Regions from separate parts of the Homo sapiens genome. Here region 1 is linked to region 2. Evidence: fine-mapped expression QTL. A gene starts in region 2. The other region holds a variant in brackets. All regions are shown on one strand. Distances are between the middles of the regions.

The links.
Region 1: its variant is fine-mapped to the expression of ATG4B in whole blood (TOPMed, PIP above 0.99).

The regions. Positions count from the first base shown.
Region 1 is chr2:241,666,212-241,676,214 of GRCh38, forward strand. It overlaps ATG4B (autophagy related 4B cysteine peptidase), which reads left to right. Exons shown (of 13, transcript NM_013325.5): 8 at 434-627; 9 at 1,932-2,010; 10 at 2,329-2,474; 11 at 4,515-4,571; 12 at 5,101-5,194; 13 at 5,980-7,646. The coding sequence ends at 6,053. DTYMK (deoxythymidylate kinase) reads right to left here. Exons shown (of 5, transcript NM_012145.4): 5 at 9,536-10,003. The coding sequence ends at 9,916. Among named protein-coding and RNA genes, the nearest start is that of DTYMK, 16 kb to the right of the region's middle. RefSeq lists enhancers at 1,973-2,474, 2,475-2,974. The variant T/A (reference allele first, on the strand shown) is at 5,147.
Region 2 is chr2:241,632,507-241,644,942 of GRCh38, forward strand. It overlaps ATG4B (autophagy related 4B cysteine peptidase), which reads left to right and starts at 5,187. Exons shown (of 13, transcript NM_013325.5): 1 at 5,187-5,218. The coding sequence starts at 5,209. THAP4 (THAP domain containing 4) reads right to left here and starts at 4,652. Exons shown (of 6, transcript NM_015963.6): 1 at 4,435-4,652; 2 at 411-1,573. The coding sequence starts at 4,511. RefSeq lists silencers at 4,175-4,314, 4,385-4,454, 4,485-4,834, 5,205-5,254, 5,275-5,464 and 1 more and enhancers at 4,808-5,735, 6,135-6,668, 12,246-12,436.

The sequences.
Region 1 (10,003 bases), 32 kb after region 2:
CCTCCGGACCATTGACTCACGGGTGTGTGTAGGCAGAAGGGGTGGAAGCGAGGAAAGGCGTTGCTGAGGAGGCCCGGAGGGAGCGGGTTCTGGCTGTGCTGGCACTAGCCAGGCTGGCAGGCTGCGTGGGTACTTCTGTGATTTTCCTCTCAAGTGCACGTGGCTTTTTCTTGCACTGTTTCGTGTGTGTGCTTTATTTCACAATAAAACTCTTGAATTAAGTATGCATAGAAACTATTTCTTTTTTCTCTGGGTGGCAAGATTATGAAAAAATTTTCTTACGCTTTTCTATATTTTCCAAGTTTGAATTTCACTGTAAGCACCTGGCTTTGTACCGCCCTTTTTCTGTTACACAGTCATCATTTGCTTGCTTGTTGTGGGAGCACTTTTGCACAGGTCTGCTTGGTTAGTGAAAGCATGTCTCCCTTTCTAGGAAGGTTGTGCAGGACCAGCGTTCCCTGTGCAGGCGCCACTGCGTTTCCTGCAGATTCCGACCGGCACTGCAACGGATTCCCTGCCGGAGCTGAGGTCACCAACAGGCCGTCGCCATGGAGACCCCTGGTACTTCTCATTCCCCTGCGCCTGGGGCTCACGGACATCAACGAGGCCTACGTGGAGACGCTGAAGGTGGGTCCTGCCGTGCGGCGCTTGCCCTGAGTCCCCGTCCCCTTCTCCCAGTTCTTAGTCACTTTCAGCGCATCGTCGTCACGTGGCCATTTGTGCAGCCGGCTCTCGGGGGAGGGGTAAACAACCCTGGTTTACACCGTTGCCCAAGGGGTGAGTGGGCGTGAGGCACGTCCATCAGTAGGCACGTGCTGCTTTCGTTCTGCAAGTGTCAAGGCGAGTGTCGAGGATGAAAGCATGAGGCGCTTGCAGGGGGTCCTTGGAACCAGGTGCCACTCCTCGGCCTGACGGGGAGCCCCGCCCCCTCCCGGGTCTCCACTGTGCCCCAGGCATGCCCACCCCACTCCCCCACAGCCCTCTTGGCCTGAGGTCCCTTCGGAGGGTGGGTTGGCCTGTGAGGAAGGGACGTGTGGGCAGGGCCTGGGGATGGGCAGGGCTGTGTGAGGAGCTCCAGCCACAGGCTCCCCCATGTCATGAAAGCAAAAGGGGGCGGGGAGCGGTGGCTCATGACTGTAATCCCAGCACTTTGGGAGGGCAAAGCGGGCAGATCACGAGGTCAGGAGTCTGAGACCAGCCTGGCCAACATGGTGAAACCCTGTCTCTACTAAAAATATAAAAATTAGCCGGGCATGGTGGTGCGCGCCTGTAGTCCCAGCTACACAGGAGGCTGAGGCAGGAGAATCTCTTGAACCCAGGAGGCGGAGCTTGCAGTGACCCGAGATCATGCCATTGCACTCCATCCTGGGTGACAGAGTGAGACTCCATCTCAAATAAAAAAAAAAAAAAAGCAAGCAGAAGGGAAAACCATCCTTTCTTCAGGTAACTCAAATTTTAGACCAAGGAGTCACATTTGTATGGAACTGAAATGTGGCTTCCTGTTAAAATTATTCAGTTGTCTGAACTTGGCCCCTCCGTCCAGCCTTCTGCCCATCCTGTGGGGTCTCAGCTGCCCCCACACATAGGCCCCGTCTCCATCGCTTCTGCCCTGTCAGGTCAAAGCACTCAGCAGGGCCACCTCCCGCACCCCTGCTCACATCTCCTGCCAGGCCCCCTCACTCCCGGCCTCCCCAAAGCCCACCTCTGACATGAAGCTTCCCTGAGCTGAGCCTGCAGATTGGGTTTCTTGTGCCTGTGGGATGTCCTGTGGTCTTTCCTGGACAGTAAGCTCTTTGGTACCATGTCCCCTCCTGTCCCCTCTTGTGTCACCCAGTTGGGCCTCAGCAGGCCCTTGGGCCCCCTATGGCAGTGGGTGGGGGGACCGTCTGCTCCCACCTGGGACCTGTGCTCAGTCCCCCGCCCCTCCACAGCACTGCTTCATGATGCCCCAGTCCCTGGGCGTCATCGGAGGGAAGCCCAACAGCGCCCACTACTTCATCGGCTACGTTGGTGAGTCCAGGGTTCCCACCGTGTCCCTGTGGGCCTGGGCCTTTTAAGGGCATTCCATGAGCAGGTACCACACCCCAGGTGACCACTTGAGGCCACTGGTGGAAAAGCAGCATGCCCTGGGGTTCATTTTCAGCCTGGTCGCGGGCGGCCTCCTGTGTGCCCCTTTCCCTGATGGTCTGGTGCCCTCGGCTCCCTCCCCACCTCCTGCCCACTGCTTCTCAGTGTGATGTGGGTGCAGTGGGTCTGAAATGCGGCCTCCTCTGTCCCTTTCCTCTGCCGGCTCGGCCACCCACCTGCCCACCTGCCTCATCCTCCCAGGTGAGGAGCTCATCTACCTGGACCCCCACACCACGCAGCCAGCCGTGGAGCCCACTGATGGCTGCTTCATCCCGGACGAGAGCTTCCACTGCCAGCACCCGCCGTGCCGCATGAGCATCGCGGAGCTTGACCCGTCCATCGCTGTGGTACGTGGCGGCCACCTGAGCACACAGGCATTTGGTGCTGAATGCTGTTTGGGAATGACGAGGAAAACTTTCGGATTTTTGCGTTTTTTTTTTCAGCATGTTGGGATAAGTACTGTGTTCACGTGGTTGGGAATCTGAAGGGTATAAGAGCCGGAACTGTGTCCTTGCACCCTCACGTCCCTCCCCCAGGCACCACCTCCTGTGCAGCCTTCATGGCCTTCGAGTGGCCCAGAGAGCGTGTGTCTGGATGTGAGCGTGTGTGGGCGCGTGCTGAGTGTGCATGGATGAGTGTGAGCCATGGTGAGTGTGTCCCCCTCACACCTACATTTAAACACACGGGCGGCCCCTCCACCCACCCCTGCACCACCTTCGTCACACCCACATTTAAACACGGGCGGCCCCTCCACCCACCCACTCCTGCACCACCTTTTGTTTTCCGGAGGCTCTGACTTGACCTCTCTGGGGGATTTCCTAAGAAGGAGCTTCCCTGTTTTTCCATTTTGATTACCTAGTTGTGATTTTTGGTGTGTGATTTATGCAGACCTGCCTGCCCTCAAATATATTTGATGGGGAAAGAGGCCAAAAAACCCCCCTAGAAATCATGAATGACGGTGACATGCTCAGGGAAGCAGTTAACCGAATCGGGGGCTCTGTTGTGGATGCTCCGCCCCATTTAGGAGGAAGAAGGCAGATCTGGGCCTGAAATGGGACGGTCTCTGAGCTGTGGCGCAGCCCCAGAGTGCACACCACGCTCCATGCACCTCCTGGGCAGGGTGGCAGTAGTGGGGAACATGGGCTGGAGCTCTGTGGCTCACACTTTTTGTTTGTTTGTTTGTTTTTGAGACGGAGTCTCACTCTGTCGCCCAGGCTGGAGTGCAGTGGCACGATCTCGGCTCACTGCAAGCTCCGCCTCCCAGGTTCACGCCATTCTCCTGCCTCAGCCTCTGGATTAGCTGGGACTACAGGCACCCGCCACCACGCCTGGCTAATTTTCTGTATTTTTAATAGAGACGGGTTTTCACTGTGTTAGCCAGGATGGTCTTGATCTCCTGACCTCATGATCCACCCACCTCGGCCTCCCAAAGTGCTGGGATTACAGGCGTGAGCCACTGCGCGCAGCCTGGCGCACACTTCTTACCAGAACCTAGTCACGAATTCCTCGTCGAACTAGAATTAGGTATGTTTGTTACTGTAAACGCAGCTTGGTGGCTTACAGTGATTGGCACTCTAACAGTCAGGTCAGGCTAGAGAGCCAGCCACCGCAGACAGAGGAGTGGACGCGTGAACGTTGAGTTGAGACCAAAGGGGCCACCTGGTGGGATAACTGTCCTCACCCGTGAGGAGGAGGAATGTCCCCTGTCCCCGGGGGAGAGTGCTCCTACACCAGCGCCGAGGCGGCAGAATGGTGTCTTCAGGGGAAGAGAGTGCCCAGTTTGAGCTTCTCCCCCCATTTCGTTTCTTTTTGTGTTAACATCTGCGCATCTGGCAGCGTTGAGAATTCCTAGTGACTGTCATTACAGGCGGCAGCTTTAAGGATGTGATTGCCGGTGACCCTTGGCCGGTCCCCTGTCTCCTGGCTCCTCAGCAGGAGGCTCCCTGTGTCACGGTGTCCTTGGGCAGTTCTCGGTGGCCTTTGCCGCCAAGCTTCCAGGGAGCTGCTGGGCGAAGGCTGAGACCCAGCGGCCCTGCCTCACAGTCACAGAGAGAAGAGCTCCCCACTTGGCCCTAACTCATAACCTGCCCCAATCCCGGAACACTCGGTGAGGTTTGAGAGATGCACACCACGTAACATCTCGTGGGCGAATCAAGGCACAGCAACGCAGTGGAGCCTGAGGGGAGCCGGGCACTGGTGCAGGGGACCATGCACAGGGCACCCTCGGAGCTCCGTTCCTGGCCACAGGAGCCAAGGCAGGCTGGAATGTCCAGCACCTGCATGCTGGGGGCCTCTGCTGCGCCACTGGCAGTGGGAATGGAAGCCCCCACCTCTTAGCCGACTGCAGATGGGGGTGTCGTGTTCTGCTCATCGTCATTTCGTTTTAGGGGTTTTTCTGTAAGACTGAAGATGACTTCAATGATTGGTGCCAGCAAGTCAAAAAGGTTTGTAGCCGCCCCACACCCACAGCCGAGCTGAGCCACCCAGGGAGACAGGCAGTGGGGCGTGCAGGGGTCGAAGGCCTGCGTCCAGGTCTCAGGCAGCCTCACTGGGCCGTGGGGAGCTTTGTCCCGCCTGGCACAGCTATGTAGCTGAGCAGGGTGGGGCGTCCTGGATTGCCCATCTGGCAACACAGTTAACAACCCTGGGGACGGATGTTGCGTGTTGACTTTAGAATGGGATTTCCAGTGTCCTCATCCGTCTCCTGTTGAGATGGGGGTGGTGATGGGGTGCTGAGCTACGCCGGCCGAGTGCGTGTGGCCCACCCCCCTCTGCCGTGGTGGTCAGACTGTGCTGTGTGTTGATCACCACACTGGGTTCTCGTGTAGCCTTTAGTGTGGAGCTGCCTCTGTTTTCTCATCAGTGAGATGGGATGACAGGTTTGTCCGCTGGCTGTGGCCGGCTGGCCCCTTTCTCTTGGCCGCAGCAAGCACTGGGGTGAGGCTGCACCTAACGGCCATGTCTCACTAACAGCTGTCTCTGCTTGGAGGTGCCCTGCCCATGTTTGAGCTGGTGGAGC[T/A]GCAGCCTTCACATCTGGCCTGCCCCGACGTCCTGAACCTGTCCCTAGGTGAGAGCTGCCAAGTCCAGGTGGGGTCCCTCGGAGGTACGATCTGTGCCCTTGCTTCCCCAGTCCTGGCCCCCTTGGTTTTGACCATTAAGGTGTGTGTGAGCCTGAGCCGTGAGCACTTGGCAGTGGTTCGCCTGTGAGACCAGGTATGGAGTGGAGCGTCCCCTCCTCCAAGCTTGCGCCCAGCAGCCCAGGACCCACCTCGTCTTCCCCACCAGCGCTGCCTGCCCGGGCGCTGTGGAGCTGGGCGTGCTACCATGGAGTCCTCAGGGGTCTGGAGCAGACAGAACATGCAGGCTCTGTGGTGACGCAGTCCTGGGTGGGGGACTGGTTCACTTGGGCACCACTGGCCATGGGTGGCGTAGACCCCTCGGACCATGGCCAGCGTGCCGCAGGAGCCGGCCTGGGCTCGTGCAGTGAAGTGAGTGGCCGTGAGCGCGTCCTCCTCATCTCTGTCTCCCTGTGGGAAACTCTACAAACAAGGCAATGGCAATGGAACCACTCCTGATGACCACGAGGGTCAGACGCGGGACAGAGGCCCCTCAGGCCTGAGATTGTGCCGGCCGCCCCCTGCCCTCCTCACCCTGCCCTGCTCCTCTTCTCTGCTCCCTCCCCCCATATTCGCAGGTCTGCACAACCCCCGGACCTGTTCACACCCGCATGGGGACAGCTGTCTGTGGGCTGCAGAGCAGGCACTGCTCAGTCTGCCCCACGCCAAGGGCCCTTGACTCACACCCAGGTGGCCCACCCAAGATGCCTGATGCGCTATGTCCTGTTCCTTCTAGATTCTTCTGATGTAGAGCGACTGGAAAGATTCTTCGACTCAGAAGATGAAGACTTTGAAATCCTGTCCCTTTGAAAATCCTGGGGTCGGGGGTGGCACCTGTGAGAGCCTGGGGCTCCTGGTGCCGCTGCGTTTCATCCATCCCGCCCGCTCGCCTGCCGAGGGCTGCGCCCCGTGCTGCCTCCCCCCAGAGGGCCACCCGCTGTGCTCGTGGACTGAGGCTGCGCTGCCCGGGAGGCCTTACTGCTTGGTGTCAGACTGCCCAGCTCAGAGTGCCCGTCAGGGCCTGTGCATCCGCACGCGGAGCCGTCTGTTAGGAGCTTCCAGAGTGTTCTCTCGACACTGCCAGCCCCGTGTTAGCACCTGGGCCTCAGTCCCACTTGCTCCCAGGCGCCGGTTCTGTGGTTGGTTTGGAATTAAAGTCCTGTTTGAAGTTGTCAGACACAGACATGAATTTCTGGGCGCTCCCTGAGTCAGAGTCTCAGAAGACCTGTGCAGGCTGGCGTGAGAGGAGCGGCAGCCACACTGCGGCCCCACGCCCAAGGACTGGGCTGCTCTCGAGGGGGGCGCGCCCACCGCTGTGTCCTCTCTGCCCAGCCTGGCTTACCAAGGGCTACCTCAGTGGGAGATGAGGTTGGAGGAACGAAGGCGAGGTTCCTCCTTGCTTTGGGGAGAAAAGTATTCAGGAAGTGGGTGTGTGGGAAACCTGAAGATGGCGTGCACAGGACACAGCGTGGGCGGCCTGGGCAGAAGGGCGGCTGGCTGTCCTGGAGCTGCTGCTGGAGCCTGCCCTCAGAGTGTCCCTTTCCAGTGCTGTGGCATTCTGTGGCAGCTTCCCCAGGTGTGGTGACGGGGGGGGGGCGGGGCCTCCACCTGTGACAGCCAGGCTTGAGGGTGGACGGCGTGCCTCTCCCAGGAGCCTTCCCCATGTCCTTGCCTTGCTGAGAATTGCCCTCCCATGCCGCTGAGGTGTTAGGTGGTTTAGGGCCAAAAGGGGAAAACCACTTGAGTCTTGTGGTGTGTGGTGGGCAGACACCACAGGGTGGCATCACCTGGTGGCATTTCCAGAACCTCAGCCCCGATTCCAGCACCCACCACCGCCTGACCCTGTGTAACCTGCTGTCCCGGGTCCCAGAGTGCACTCTGCCCCGCTGCTCTGCTGCCTGTCCTGGGAAAGTATCTTTGCCCCACTAGGAAATGTAAACAGGAGGGCTTGGGGAGCGTGGGCACTTTTCTCATGAGCAGCTACTGCGGCGTTGGCAGGACTCGCTGCTGCTGCTGCTGCTTGTGTAGGTCGGGGAGCCAGAGATCCCCGAGGACGCGCGCCGGACAGTCGGCACTGACCGGCCCACCTGGTAGCAGAGGACACCCCCAGCCCCCCAAGCATTGAAGACATAGTGTATTTCCTCGTATCCTTTCTCCCTTGGGTGTAGTTGGGGTGGGGAAGCAGGGAAGGCTGGTGCGATCTCCATTCCTTGGGCTCCACGTCCGAGTTCATGGTGCGCCGCTGTGCTGGGAGCTGCAGTGGTAATGTGTGGGACACCTTGACCAAAGGGGAGCTTTGTCTCGTGTGTTTTGAAAAAGGCTTAATGAAGAGAATGTTGTTCATTCTTAGTAGTATAGTTTGCAATTCTTAATGGCAAATAATAAGTTTCAGTAGAAAACAAACCTTGTGTCTATTTTTTCCTTAAGTTCTAATTGAATGTGAGTTCCAGAAAAAAAATAAGTGAATGTTTCAGCCCGTTCACACGTAAAGGATGTGGCTGCCTGCGTGGCGGGCTGTGGGGCCCTGAGCAGGTGTGTCCCCAGCCCTGGCAGGGGGCCTGTCCTGCCTGCAGCCTGGCTCTCTACCAGCCGTGGCATCAGCCACCTCATACAACCCTAGAAGGAAAAAGTGCAAGGAAAATAGGATTTTAGGAAAGTAAAATGGCGGTTCCCATCTTCAGCAGGAGGAAGTCACAGGAAGTGCCTGGAGTTGCAGGGTTTGCCTCGATTTGAATCATAGCAAAGCCTTCCCCAAGTGCGCAGTGACTGTCCTGGCCTGTGGGAGGCCATGCCTGGGGCACAGCAGGGGGCTTGGTGAGGACATTGCTCACTCTGGCCAGTGCATCCCTGTGGGCAGCCCTGGTATAGGTGTGAAGGGCCCAAAGCCAGATCGGAGGGGGCCCTGCTGGGTCCCCGGTGAGGTGGCTGAGGACTTGTGGCCTCTCCGATGCTCGTATTCGCTTCTTGTGGCTGCTCTAAAAGATGATCACATTCAGTGCCTGGAACAGCACAGCCTCTTCCAGACCCGGAGGGCAGACAGCCATATCGTGCTGTGGGCTCTAGGGGAGAACGTTGCTGTGCCTTTCTAGCTTCTGGATGCCAGAAACTGCTTGGCTCATGGCTCTTTCCTCCAACCACACAGCCAGCAACATGGCATCTCTCCAGCTTTTGCTGTTGGCATCTCATTTCCTGACTCGGACCGCCTGCCTCCCTGTTATGCGGACCCGTGATGGGCCAGGCATGGTGGCGCCAGCCTGTAATCCCAGCACTTTGGGAGGCTAAGGTGGATCACTTGAGCCCAGGAAAGAGAGGCTGCAGTGAGTCAAGATTGCACCACTGCACTCCAGCCTGGATGACAGAGTGAGACCCAGTCTTAAGACAACAAAAAAAGGCCCCTGTGATGACACTGGGCCCACCTGGATAGTCCAGGAAAGTCTCATCTGAAGGTTCCTCACCCAGGCCCATCCCACAGCCCCTGGCAATGCTTACCCAAGAGTGAAATCCTTTTGTTTTGCCTGGGTTTGTCTCTTGGCCACAGAAGGGTGCTGAGACCCACAGCTGCTGCCCCCACAGATGGGGGACCCTGCCTGCCTTCTACTCCAGCACACTGTATGCTGCTGTCTATGCGGAGTGTGCTCTGTGGGACAGATTCTGCCAGGAGTGTCAAATCATTCCTTCTAAGTGTCACTTAAAAGGGGATGCAATGGGCTCGGCATGGTGGCTCATGCCTGTACTCCCAGCACTTTGGGGAGGCCAAGGCAGGTAGATCACTTGAGCCCAGGAGTTTAAGACAAGCCTGGCTGGCAACATAGCGAAATCCTGTCTCCACAAAAAAATTACCCAGGCACAGTGAAGGCCTGTAGGCCTAGCTACTCAGGAGGCTGAAGTAGGAGGATCACCTGAGCCCAGGAGGTCAAGGCTGCAGTGAGCCACGATCGTGCCACTGCACTCCAGCCTGGGCGACAGTGAGACCCTGTTTCCAAAAAAATAAAAAATAAAGGATAGGATGAGAAGTTAAGCTCCAGGGTTGCAATGAAAATAGCAGAGTTAACTTAGGTGAGTTCAGGACGTAAGCTGTGATGACACTCGGATATAGCCTGGCTGGACCCAGCGAGCCCAGGGCATGGCTGCAACTGTTCAGACCCACAGTGGGACTCCCTCAACTAGGCAGGAACCAGGGTCCAGGAAGGCCCTACTGGGCCCAATGAAGGCTCTTCTCTCCTGGGATGGAGGTTCCCATTCAAAGCCAGCTCCGTCCTCAGTCTAAGAAAAGTGAAGCGTTCCACAAACAATTTTCAGGTCGTTTTTTACTAGTGTCTGGAAGACATTTAGGAGAATTCCAACTGATTACCATTTACAGTGATCACAATGAAACTGCTCAGAGTTATCACTGAACTTCAGTAAGAAAATACAACAGAGTGCCATCAGGACAGGGGAGAGGGCAGGAGACTGCTCCATCGCTCTGCTCATGTCCACACTGCCAAGGTCCCCACCACGGGGGTCCCCAGTGCACCCCAGCTCCGGGGCAGAAGAGGCAGCCTGCAGATCTCTGCTGCCGGGAAAGAGCTCCTGAAGTTGTGGGGTCTGGACTCTGCTGGGGACGGGGCCTTCCGCGAGTCTCCCACCTCTCGGGGGACTGCAGGGAGAGGCGTCTCCAGTGGGCAGCCTTGGGTCACTTCCATAGCTCCCCCAGCGGCTTCTCTGTGGCAGTGCGGATGGCGTCCTCAGAGAGCACGCGGATGTCCTCATGGACAGCTTCG
Region 2 (12,436 bases):
TTTTAACAGTTTCTGATATTTGCTTTTTCTGAGAGTTTACTCTCTTATTTTCCATCTAGTTCCTAACTCATCTGGAATTTCTGTTGCATAAGGTATGAAACAGAAGCTATCTTTCCCTGTGCACTCTCCACGGAGGCGTTCAGGCACTCCTGGCTGACGCGTGCTGCCTGCCTCCTTCACGGCCTACATCCCTACACACACAGATGCCTCTTGTGGGACCAGGTGCAGTGAGGCCTGCTTTCTAACCTGGATTCCCTCATCCACAAGGTATGGTTACGACCAGAGCTTCCTCCTGAGAGCGCAGGGAGCTTGTGACACCTCCCAGAAATGCTCAGGGGACGCTGGCCACCTTGCAGAGAAACCCCTCCTAACGGGAAGGGAACATGGGTACGCGAGGCTCCGGTACTGACCGCGGCTGGGCGACAGCAGGCTACTTGGATAGGGGACGCTCACTCTCCTCAGCTCATCCAGCTTCTCCTGTAGCTTCCGCACCTGGCTGTCGGAGCGGCTGACCCTCTGCCGCAGGCTCTTCAGCTCGCCGTTCTTCTTCTCCACCTGCTCCCGCAGGCAGCACACCTGGCTCTTGTTCTGCCGGGAGGAGAAGCAGTAGGAGTGCAGTGAGTCGATGAGCTTGCAGGCCCCTGACGCCGACAGGATGACCTCGTTGATGGACATGGGGCTGGCGTCGCTGTGCTCGCTCTGCACGGCTTCCGTGGCTGGCTTTGGGGTGACGTCGGCAGGAGGGGCAGAGGGGCTCTGGGAAGGCTTCTGCGGTGTCGCGGTAAGTGATGAGCTGGGAGGGCTCTGGGCCAGGCCCTTGTCGGGTCCCAGGCTGCTCCCACTGCAGCTTGGTTCCACATCTTTCTTCAGCCTCTTGCGGTCAATGGGCTCTCGGGGGACAGATGGCCTTTCTCGGGTGTGCTTAGAGGAGAAACTGTACGAATGAAGTGAGCCGATAAATTTGCACGCCCCAGATCCTGGGGGCGTAAAGTCATCCATAGAAATGCCACTCTTATCTGTCACGCCCCCTTCGATGGAGGAAGTGGCGCTCTCATCGCCAGCATCTGTGGCAGACGCTTCTGCTTTTCCCTGACTGCCTGCCACCATGGTGGCCAGTCCATCTCCTGGAGTCCGTTCCAGAGCTTGCTGGGCCTGCTCCTGGCTGGCGGCCTCCTGGGCCGCCCTGGGTGTGGCTTCACCTTGCAGAGCAGCTTGCTTCAACCTGCGGGACTCTGGCTTGGCCATCGGGTTTCCACTCGAGGACGGTGACCAACCTGCAGCTCCTCTGCTGGTGGCGGCACTCGAGTGTCCCCTCACACCCCCTGTGGCCTTGCTGGCATCTTTTCTCCGGGTGCGGCCATGGCCTCCAGCCCCCCTCTTCTTCTCGGTCAGGTGGAAGATGGATGGCACGGCCGTGGGCTTCAGCAGGCGATGCTGGTCCTCCAGCCTCTTGGAGAAGCTGTCTTTGGTGAAATGCTCACTACAGAGAAATGAATACTTAGTGGGAGTCCAGTTATCCCTCTGAACAGCTTTTAACCATTGGATTAGACGTTTTGAGTCCTTTAGGGGGAACCTACAGGACAAATGACAAAAAGTAATTAGAAATAATTAAATGTCTCCCCTTAAAATAATCAACTGTAAAAGCAAAACAAGTATTTTTGCACGCACCCTAAGCCGTATTGACTTCATCCACTTAAAAAAATACTTCAAAAAGATTTAAAGAACATCTTCTACCTGCAGTTATTACTGGAGTAGAAATCTGAAAGACCCGTTGTCTACCCATACAGAGCTTATAGTCTGTAGGGCGGATGGGAAAGAAGGTAACCAACTGCTCCCCAGGCTGTGGTAAATGCCCAATGGGGACACAGGATGCTGACAGACAGTGCCAGGATGGCCTCAGGACAGCAGGAAATAGCTCCTAGAAGCTGACTGCTAACCAACCCTCCCAACTTGCCTGGAAGGTAGGACTCTGGGTACCAAAACCAGGGCCAGCATCCACAGACACTAGGGCGTGAGAGGTCAGGACTGCATGGAGGCAGCCCTGGCTGTGCGCAAGCAGCTGAGAATCTGGAGACCTCCAGAAGACTCCAGAGCTACAGTTCTGTGTTCCTGTTGCATGCCCACCTCCAGGAGTAAAAATGCTCCTTTTAAAAGTCAACCAGCCCAGGGACAGGGCACAATGGTGCTCACCTGCAGTTCCAGTTACTTGGGAGCCTGAGGCTTGAGGGTTCTTTGAGCCCAGAAATTCGAAGTTACAGTGAGCTAAGACTGCACCACTGCTCCCCATCCTGGGGAACAGAGTGAAACCCGGTCTTCTCCCCTCAAAAAAAATCAACCAACTCAGATGATCCTTGAGGACATTATACTGAATGAAATAGGGCAGGTGCAAAAAAACAAACACTGCATGATACCACTCACATGAGGTACTCAGAGTAATCAAATTCATAGAGACAGGAGAATGCGGGTTCCCAGAGCCTAGGGAGAGGAGGACTGGGGTATTAATGTTTAATGAGTCCAGAGATTCCGCTTTACAAAATAAAAATAATTCTGGAGGTGGATGGTAGTGACAGCTGCACAACAACGTGAATGTATTTGTTGCCATGAATTGTACACTGAAAAAGCGGTAGGAAAGGCTGGGAGCCGTGGCTCATGCCTGTGATCCCAGCTACTCTGGAGGCTGAGATGGGAGGACCACTTGGGTCCAGGAGGCTGAGGCTGCAGTGAGCTACGGTCATACCATTGCACTCCAGCCTGGGTGACAGAGTGGGACTCTGTCTCCAAAAAAAGTTAGGATGGTAAATTTCATGTTACATGTATTATACCATAATTTAAAAATGGTGAGAAAAAAGCAACCAGCGCAGGAAGATACTGAATAGGATGTTTAGTCATTTCTTTATTACCTAATAAAGATCCTTCATAACCATTTCTTCATTAAGGCAAACTCTGTGTTTAAGAACATAGGCCTGGGCCGGGCGGGGTGGCTTATGCCTGTAATCCCAGCACTTTGGGAGGCCGAGGCGGGTGGATCACTTGAGGTCAGGACTTTGAGGCCAGAGTTCGAGACCAGCCTGGCCAATATGGTGAAACCCTGTCTCTACTAAAAATACAAAAAAATTAGACAGGCGTGGTGGCGCTTGCCTGTAATCCCAGCTACTTGGGAGGCTGAAGCAGGAGAATAGCTTGAACCCAGGAGCGGGGGTTGCAGTGAGCCGAGATCGCACCAATGCACTCCAGCCTGGGCGACAGAGGGAGACTCCTTCTCAAAAAAAAGAGAAAAAAAGAAAAAAAAACCAGGCCCTAATGTGCACATAAGGGACAGGGTGGTCAGTTCTAACTGCTATTTGCTCCACCTGAGGCCAGTGTGGACCAGGACAAATCCTAACAGGATGGACTGGGCCGTTCTAAGCAACAGGACCTTCTAACCTCCTTTCTGAACACTGTGAGGCCAACTGCAAAGGTACCCCCCCACCCCCAATTCCGATGTCCTTTCCTCCCATACCATGTTAGACCGTTGCAACACGTTGCCTCGTTTTCAAAAAACAATAACAAAACTTCTAGGACACAAGCTCTGAAGGAAATTGTCAAGAAAGTGCGCTGGCTGACTTGTGAAATAATCTAATGTTACTAATTCTTATAATACATTGTAATGATTTAAGACTTACAGCAAACTACTGTGAACTTTCAATAACCCTATAAATAACACGTGCCATTCCCGTCTTTAAAACTTAAATAACACCATGCAACATAAAACAGAAACATCTCCAAAGTGGTTTTTAAAGTCTGTTCGCGGTTCTGGTGCCTCCCGCGTGTAATCCGCAGAAATCTCACTGAAATAGGCTGAACTCACAAGGCCTTAGAGGGGTTTGGGCCCTGCCGCGGGGGCCCACGTGGGAAGCGGCCGAGAGCCCCGGGCCAGGCTCTAAGGGAGCGCAGGAGGATGCCGTCCCCAGCCGGCCGTCCCGTAGACTCTCCGCGCGTACCCGCGTCCTGGGCTCGGGGGCCCAGTCCCGGAAAGCCCTCTCGGGGGCTGTCAGCTACGGAGGCGCAGGTCGCGTCTGCCCGGTCGCTCCTGCTCGCAGACATCCAGGCCGACGGCCCGCGCGGTCCGGAGAGTCAGCAGTCGCGGCCGAGCAGGACAATCGGCCCAGGACCTGCGCTTCCAGAGCGTGCGGCTTCTGAAGCCTAGGCGCCGGCCGGATCGATCGCGCGCAGGGCGGACCCAGGCGGCCGGGGTGGGGGCGGCTGCGCTGCCCGAGGCGCCCGGCCCAGAGACGGCGGCCGGGCCAAGGTCACACAGCGCCCACGCCCGCTCCCCCGCGCCCCGGCCGCCGAGGCCCGGCGCCCCCGCCCCCCGCGTTCGGGCCGGCCGCGGGGCCTCAGTTTCCCCGCAGGGCCGGGTCGGGGCGGGGGCGTGGCGGCCCGGGGCCCGCGTACCTGTGGAAGGAGACGGCGCGCTTCTCGCCCTTTCCCTGCCGGTTGGAGCAGTTCACGGCCGCACAGCAGATCACCATCGCGGGCCTTGGCCCAGCCGCGCAGCCAGGCCCCGGCCCTAGCCGCCCGCCCGCCCGCGGACCGCCCCGAGGGAGGGAGCGCGGCGGCGACACGGCTCGGGACGTGGGCCGGCCCGCGGCGTCCGCGCCGTACGGCAAGATGGAGGCGCAGGCGCCCGCAGCGGGCCCGCCCCCGCCCCAGCCCCCGCCCGCGTCCTCGCCAGCCGCGGGTTCGGGCGTCTTCGGACCAGCGGGGCGCCGCAGGCCCCTCGCAGCGTCCGTCGGCAGGCGGGCAGACGGGCGGGGGAGTCGCCCCGGCGGGGCAAGTCCGTACCGCGACATGGGCGCGCCGAGCACGTCCGTACCGCAAGATGGCTGCTCGGACGGGGACAGAGCTCGCCTCTGCCGCCTCGACAACTGCTCCTGGGTCCTCTAAGAGGAGGAAGCGCCACCCATGGCACACAGTGTCCCGTCGGACAGCAGAACCAGCCGTCGTCCCACGACACGACCCCATGCCGCCCGCAGGGCGCCCCGGGGCTCGCGTCGGCCCGGCCGTACGCCAAAATGGCGGCTCCCGCGTATTTCCGCTCGCGCGCCGTATCGTCTTCGCCGCCTGCGCCGGCACACCTATTGGCCCCCGCGGCGTCCCGTCGCCGCGTCGCGTTGCTGGCCCGTCGGAGCGACGCCGCTCGGGTCAGTCGGCGGCCGGACTGGGAAGATGGACGCAGGTGAGGAGTTGCCGGGGGTCGGTCTTTCCGCAGGAGGTGCTCGCCTTATCATTGGCCTCCCCTGCTCGGGTCGGGCTGCCGCGACTCGCCTCGGGGCACGCCGGTGCGGGCCAGGCTGGGCCGGGGCGGCGGGCGCTGCGGGAGCGCGGGGCGGTGTTGGTGGGTGGTGGGCGGTGGGAGCGGGAGGGGGACGGCGGCGCACTGCGCCGCGGAACCCGCCGTCGGTTGCGCTGGAGCTTCTGCTTTTCCGGTCCCGTCCGGAGCGCTCCGGAGGTTGTGGCTGCACAGGCCCTTGCGCCAGGTCGGCCGTGGAGGGCGGCGGAGCCTGCCGGGCGGGGAGAGGCGCGGCGGCGAACGGGGCGGCCGCGGTCCGGGCCGGGGACGCGAGCGGCGGGCGAAAGCGTAGCCTTTCCGCAGCTGAGCGTGAAGGGATGGAAGCTCTTTAACTTTTATGAAGTTATTGGTAGGTTGGAGGAGAGAAACGTGACGTGTTCATCACAGTATACGTATCTTTTTTGTTTTTGTCTTCAATTTAGTAACCAGTAGATTCTCCAAGCTGCTTTTCCGTGACGAGAAAGAGAAACAGTGAATTTGTATCATCGGGTCTTAGTTTCTTGGGGTCCTAAGAGAGAGAGAAAGAGAAGGAGTGTGTGTGTGTGTGTATAGGGAGTGTTGGTTTTTTTCCTATCCTTTCATGCTTCCGCTCCATTTTTGCTAGCAAGATTATTTTAAGTCAGCGCCAAACCCATCGCTAGCCCAGTAGCCCTAGAAATATTTTTACACAGAAGTTTTAGCTCATTCATTCTTTGTGGGAACTGATTTGCCTTTTACCAAGTATCCCCCATCTGTAAAGAAAGATTTTCATCTGGTTTAATTCTGTCATTCTGAATGGGATTGTTTTTACTTTTTATTTTTCTGGTAGCTACAACATAAATTTATTAAGATCTGAGTTGGAAAACTGTAATGTGTATTGCCAATATCTATTAAAATGATTTGTAGCAGCTCACCACTTAAATGTGGTAGGTGGCTGGAGGAAACAGGAGCCCTGACTCCCTAAGGAGCATGTTGACCAGGTGTATATCTTGTGAAGTTTGTCTTTTAGAATAACCGTCATTCACGGTTGAACTATTTGCAGCTGTGTACTATTTGTTGTTTACTATTTTACAACTGTTGTATTATATCTTTTTAGGTGTTATTGTTTGTGATGCAGGATTTTTCTCAGCCACTCTGGCAGCCAGAGACCTCCGGCTGGCGAGGCCCCTGCCCAGGCCTTGCTTGGGTCCAGGCTCGCCGCAGGAGATACCCCATCTACTTGGTCCACCGGTGGGCACCTGGTTTGCACTATGGCACGGATACCATGGCCACCATGACTGTATGCTCAGCCCCTGGCGGGAGTGGGTGTGTGGGTGAGTGAGTGCCGGGTCCCGCCAGCTGTTTCAAGCGCAGGCACCAGAGTGGGCTCTGCAGAGCTTACAGCTAGACATGTGGCAAGCAACTCCCACGGCGGACTCCAGCGTCCAGACAAAGGGACAGTGGATTCTGGTGTCCAGACAAGGGGAAGGTAGTGGCGCCCAAGCAGGGGTGCTTACAACCCTGAAGCCCAAGAGGGGGTGTTGCAGAGTGTCAGCAGCCCTGTTACTCCCATTGCCCTGCTCCAGGCTATAGCTCTGGGGCTGGCTCCGTCCCCGCTGCTTCCCTTTGCTGCCTCCTGTCACGTGGGGTGTCACAGTGGGTGGCTGCCCTTTGCCGGCAGAGGGCCCAGGGCCACAGTGTTACAGCCTTCTTTGTACTTGCATTCATTGGGTCCCTAGTTCTTGTCCCACGTCCAAGAAGAATGAGACTACACTTAACACTGACAATCGAAGGGTGAGGAGGGTGGAGAATAGTTTTATTGAGTGATGAAACACCCCTCAGCAGAGAGGGGACTCAAGGGTGGTCTTCCACCCAAAGTCGGGTGGTCTCCCTTGGTGTGGCTGGGTCCAGGGCTTTTATAGGCTCAGAATGGGGAGTGTGTGCTGATTTGTCTGTGAGTATGCAAAAAAGGTTAAAACAAAGTCACTACTCAAAGGTGGGCACAACAGTGTAATAAACCAATTAGAGAAAAGTAGGTATATGTAAAATAGGTGAAGGGTGGGGATTAATTAGAGGAAAGCGCACCAAACAGGAAGAGAGGTTCGCAATCCAGTCTGTGGATTTATCCGAGACTCGTCGCTTGGCTTTCAGGCTTTAAACTGTGGCTTGAAGGTTGGGTTTCACTGGTGACCCACCCCTCTCTGCCTAGGATTTGTCTGCCTCCTGCCTCTATCATTTCGATACCTTGAGGCTGGAGTATCATATGAGAGACTTGGCTAAGGTCAAAAACACGGTTCAGTGTCGATCATATGACCTAAAATGTGAAAATCATCATGTTCAAGTTGGGAGAACAGTTATGTTGTTACATGGCGATACTTTATTTTATCTTTTATTTTCCCTTGACAACTGTGTTGACATGGTGATACTTTAATAGGACACTGGATGTTGCTGCATGTGGGATCAGAGTAGAAAAGGTGTTTGCATTTAAAGGTCTCTGTTTATGCTGATAAAAACGTATATGATGTTTGTAGGATATCATGGGGAATTTTCCTTCTGACTTGATGCTGTATTTCCTTTCAGAGATGATTAATGATCTGCCCTCCTTTGATCTCTAGAGTTCTTGAAGATTCTGCCTTCCTTGACCATGTGTAATACAGTTTCTGTTCTGATAGTCATTAATTCAATACACTGTTTGTTACTGACTGTCAGATATGTGTTAGGCATTGTTCTAGACACTAGGACTAGAGAAGTAACAACATAGATGAAAACCATTGCCCTGGGGTAGCTAACGTTCTAGACATGAGACCAGCATTAGCAGCGAAGTGCGTGGCTCCTGGGGGATGGTGATTTGGGCCAAGGATGAGGAGGATTGGAATTGTAGCCAGGATGGCCAGGAAGGGTCTCACTCTGAAGGTTTAAGTTTTGACGAAGACTTAAAGCAGTGTAGGAGGAAGGGCAGGTAGCAAGAGCCTGGTGTGGCTCAGGTGCAGCGGGTGGCGGTGGGAGAAGCAGGAGCTGAGGATAGAAAGGTGACTTAGGCTCAGTGTAGTGGGGCCTTGCCAGCTCATAGTGAGGACTCGGTGTTTATTCTGAACAGGATGGCAGCTCATAGTGAGGACTCAGTGTTTATTCTGAACAGGATGGCAGCCGTTTGGAAGGTTTCATTCTAGAGGAGGAGTCACATGATAGACTGTGTTCAACAGGCTTGCTCTGGCATCTCTTTTGAGAATGTACTGCAGAGGGGCAAGGGCAGAGGCAGCGAGACCAGCTAAGAGACTGTTGAACAAGCCAGCAAGGAGATGCCAGTGGATTAGCTCAGGGTGGGTAAGAGGTTGACTTCTGCATGTGTTTTGGAGGTTGAGACAATAGAATTTGTTTGTAGATTGGAAGTTGGGAGAGGGATGGGTAGAGAGGGAGGAGTTAAAGATGGCCCCATAGTGTATGGCCTGAGCTAAGCAACTCAGATGGAGGGGGGCGGGCGTGGTGGCTCACGCCTGTAATCCCAGCACTTTGAGAGGCCGAGGTGGGCGGATCACAAGGTCAGGAGATCGAGACCATCCTGGCTAACACGGTGAAACCCCGTCGCTACTAAAAATACAAAAAATTAGCCGGGCATAGTGGCGGGCGCCTGTGATCCCAGCTACGCAGGAGGCTGAGGCAGGAGAATGGCGTGAACCCGGGAGGCGGAGCTTGCAGTGAGCCAAGACTGCGCCACTGCACTCCAGCCTGGGCGACAGAGCGAGACTCTGTCTCAAAAAAAAAAAAAAAAAGAAACTCAGATGGGGAAGACTTGGGGAGGTCCTGTCTGGTGGGAAGCTTTCTGTTGCGAGTTTGGATTTATGTGTGTTGAATGTGAGGTGGATGTTAGACATCCTTGTAGAGCAGTGTCCAGTGGGCTTTTGGGTCTACAGGTTTGGAGCTAAAAGAATAAGCCTGGGCTGGAGATAGACTGGAGGTCACATCAGATGAGGTCACCCAGGGTGTGAATGTGGGTGGGAAAGAAAAGAGGCCAAAGGCCTCTGCGGGTGTGGAGAGGTCCAGGAGGTGGCAGGCAGACCACAGTGTGGCTGTGTTCTCCACCAGTCCCTAGCACTGTCCCTAAAAGCATGCTCCCCATTCAGACGACTGGCAGGTGCCAGCACTTAAATAGCCACACTGCCCATTCCTTGAGGACAGAGCTGGTGTCTTGTGCTTGCATTTCTAGTGCATCACTTGTGTCTGGCATGTGGTTGGTAATAAAAAAAAAACAGAACTTGAATTAATAATAACCTACACATTCCCCTACTATCAAAGCTTTCAGTTTGTAGAGTTTAACATAAATCCAGTATGTTAGCATAACATGTAATGAATGCAGAGGCTGCTGGGGAGTGGTTTTTTTTTTTTTCTTGAGATGGAGTCTTGCTCTGTTTCCCAGGCTGGAGTGCGGTGGGCGCGATCTAGGGGAGTGGGTTTTAATGTGCGCAATCTGCCCAGTGTGTGCACTGAAACAGTGTTTTCTAGCTTTCTGATGTAGCTAAATTTGGAGTTCCTTTCTCTCTTTCTCTGTTTTCATTCAGGACTGAACTACTAGCATTCTCATGTAAACTCTTGGAGATTTAAAAAAAAGTAGTAATCATATGCAAACTGTTATCTTAAACCTAAGAGCTTTCTAAAGGAAAAGAAGAACCTTTGTTGAATTTATAAAATATAAATCTTTTGGAAAATAACTTCTAAGTGTTTTAGGAAGGTTTCTTCGAAATGAAGTGGTTTACAGTAAGCTCTTAAATTTACTCGTTTTTTTTTGTAGTCCTCTCTGGTTGAATGAAGTGTAATTGGTACTAAATGGAGAGAAGTTGGTTAAATTCATTGAGTACAATTCCCTACATTTCTGCCTGTCAGATTAGTAGTACTAAGTCACATGTTTTTTCTGATGGAATTACTATATTATTAAAATGCCATCTGCCCTCTTCTGCTTGTGATCGCAGAAGTCCCAGGGAAGAGGGCGTGGAAAATCAAGTGTCTGGGATCCAGCCGACCAAATGGGAGAACTGCTTCTAAGGGGGACTCTTTCTTAAGGTGTACAGCACCTCTCCGTCCTTTTTTTTTTTTTTTTTTTTTTTTTTAAGACGGAGTCTCACTGTCGCCCAGACTGGCTGGAGTGCAGTGGCTCTATCTCAGCTCACTGCAGCCTTCGCCTCCTGGGTTCAAGAGATTCTCCTGCCTCAGCCTCCCGAGTAGCTGGGATTACAGGTGTGCACCACCATGCCTGGCTAACTTTTTTATATTTTTAGTAGAGATGGGGTTTCACCATGTTGGCCAGGCTGTTCTCGAACTTCTGACCTCAAGTGATCTGCCCGCCTCGGCCTCCCAAAGTGCTGGGATTACAGGTGAACCACCACACCCAACCTACTTCTTCATCTTGTTCCTCCTGCGTGTCATCTTTTTTTGAGGCAGGGTCTCACTTCATCGCTCAGACTGGAGTATGGTGTTGCGGCCTCAGCTCATTGCAGCCTTGACCTCCTGGGCTCAAGTGATCTTCTTGCCTCACATTCCTCAGTAGCTAAGACTACAGATGTCCACGCCTAGCTATTTTTTTTTTTTTTTTTTTTTTAAGAGAGACAGGGTCTCCCTGTATTGCCCAGGCTGGTCTCAAACTCCTGGGCTCAAGTGATCCTCCCATCTTGGCTTCTTAAAGTGCTGGGATTACAGGCATGAGCCACGGCACCTGGCCTTACATGTCATCTTATTTCAAATTAATATCATTACCTGGAAGTCTAGAGATGGGTCTATATATTTATTTATGTATATATGTACATATATATATAAACATATATATACGTATATATACACATAAATATATACACATATATGTATAAATATATATATACGTGTGTGTGTGTGTGTGTATGTATATATTTTCCCCCCCCCCCGTCGTCCAGGCTGGAGTGCAGTGGCGTGATCTCGGCTCACTGCAACGGGGTTTTGCCATGTTGGCCAGGCTGGTCTTGAACCCTTGACCTCAGGTGATCCACCCACCTTGGCCTCCTAAAGTGCTGGGATTACAGGTGTGAGCCACTGCACCCGGCGAGTGGATATTTTTTCCGAAGTTTGACTCCTTTTCTATCAGGAGCTACATGAATTACCTTATAAATCACATGATGTGGCACGGGAAGATGATGAAATTATGACAGGGGCTATGAAATAAGACAAGGGAACCTCTCCATGGCGAATTGCTGAGGCAGCTGGTGTCAGGCCTAAGTGGATCTCATACATCTGAGAGTCAGTGAAGGAACAAGTGTGGTGGCTCACACTTGTAGTCCCAGCACTTTGGGAGGCTGAGGTGGGTGGATCACTGGAGCCCAGGAGTTTGAGACCAGCCTGCTTAACATAGGGAAACCCCACCTCTACAAAAAATACAAAAATTAGGCATGACGGTGCATGCCTGTAGTCCCAGCTACTCAGGAGGCTGAGGTGGGAGGATCCCTTGAGGCCGGAAGGGGGAGGTTGCAGTGAGCTGAGATCACACCACTGCACTCCAGCTTGGGTGACAGAGCCAGACCCTTGGGTGACAGAGCCAGAAGGAACGTTTGGGAATGGAATCATCGTGTTGGTCGATCTGCAGATGTTAGTGATTGTGAGCGTTAGTTTTGCACCCATTGTGGGTTCTCACCCCACTTGGAAAACTGGTGGCTGTGCCCCATTTCATGGGTGAGGAGACTGAGGCTGGAAGAAGTCCAGGCCTGTGTCTGTCCTGTAGCTATCGACCAGGCTCTCAGACTCCAGAAACAAACCTCAGTAGGAATCAGAAGTGTTGGCCGGGCGCGGTCTGCCTGTAGCTATCGAGCAGGCTGTCAGACTCCAGAACCAAACCTCAGTAGAAATCAGAAGTGTCGGCCGGTTGCGGTGGCTCATGCCTGTAATCCCAGCACTTTCGGAAGCTGATGTGGGCGGATCATCTGAGATGAGGAGTTCGAGACCAGCCTGACCAACATGGGAGAAACCCATCTCTACTAAAAATACAAAATTAGCCAGGCGTGGTGGCACACACCTGTAATCCCAGCTACTCGGGAGGCTGAGGCAGGAGAATCGCTTGAAACCGGGAGGCGGAGGTTGCAGTGAGCCGAGATCGTGCCATTGCACTCCAGCCTGGGTGACGAGCAAAACTCC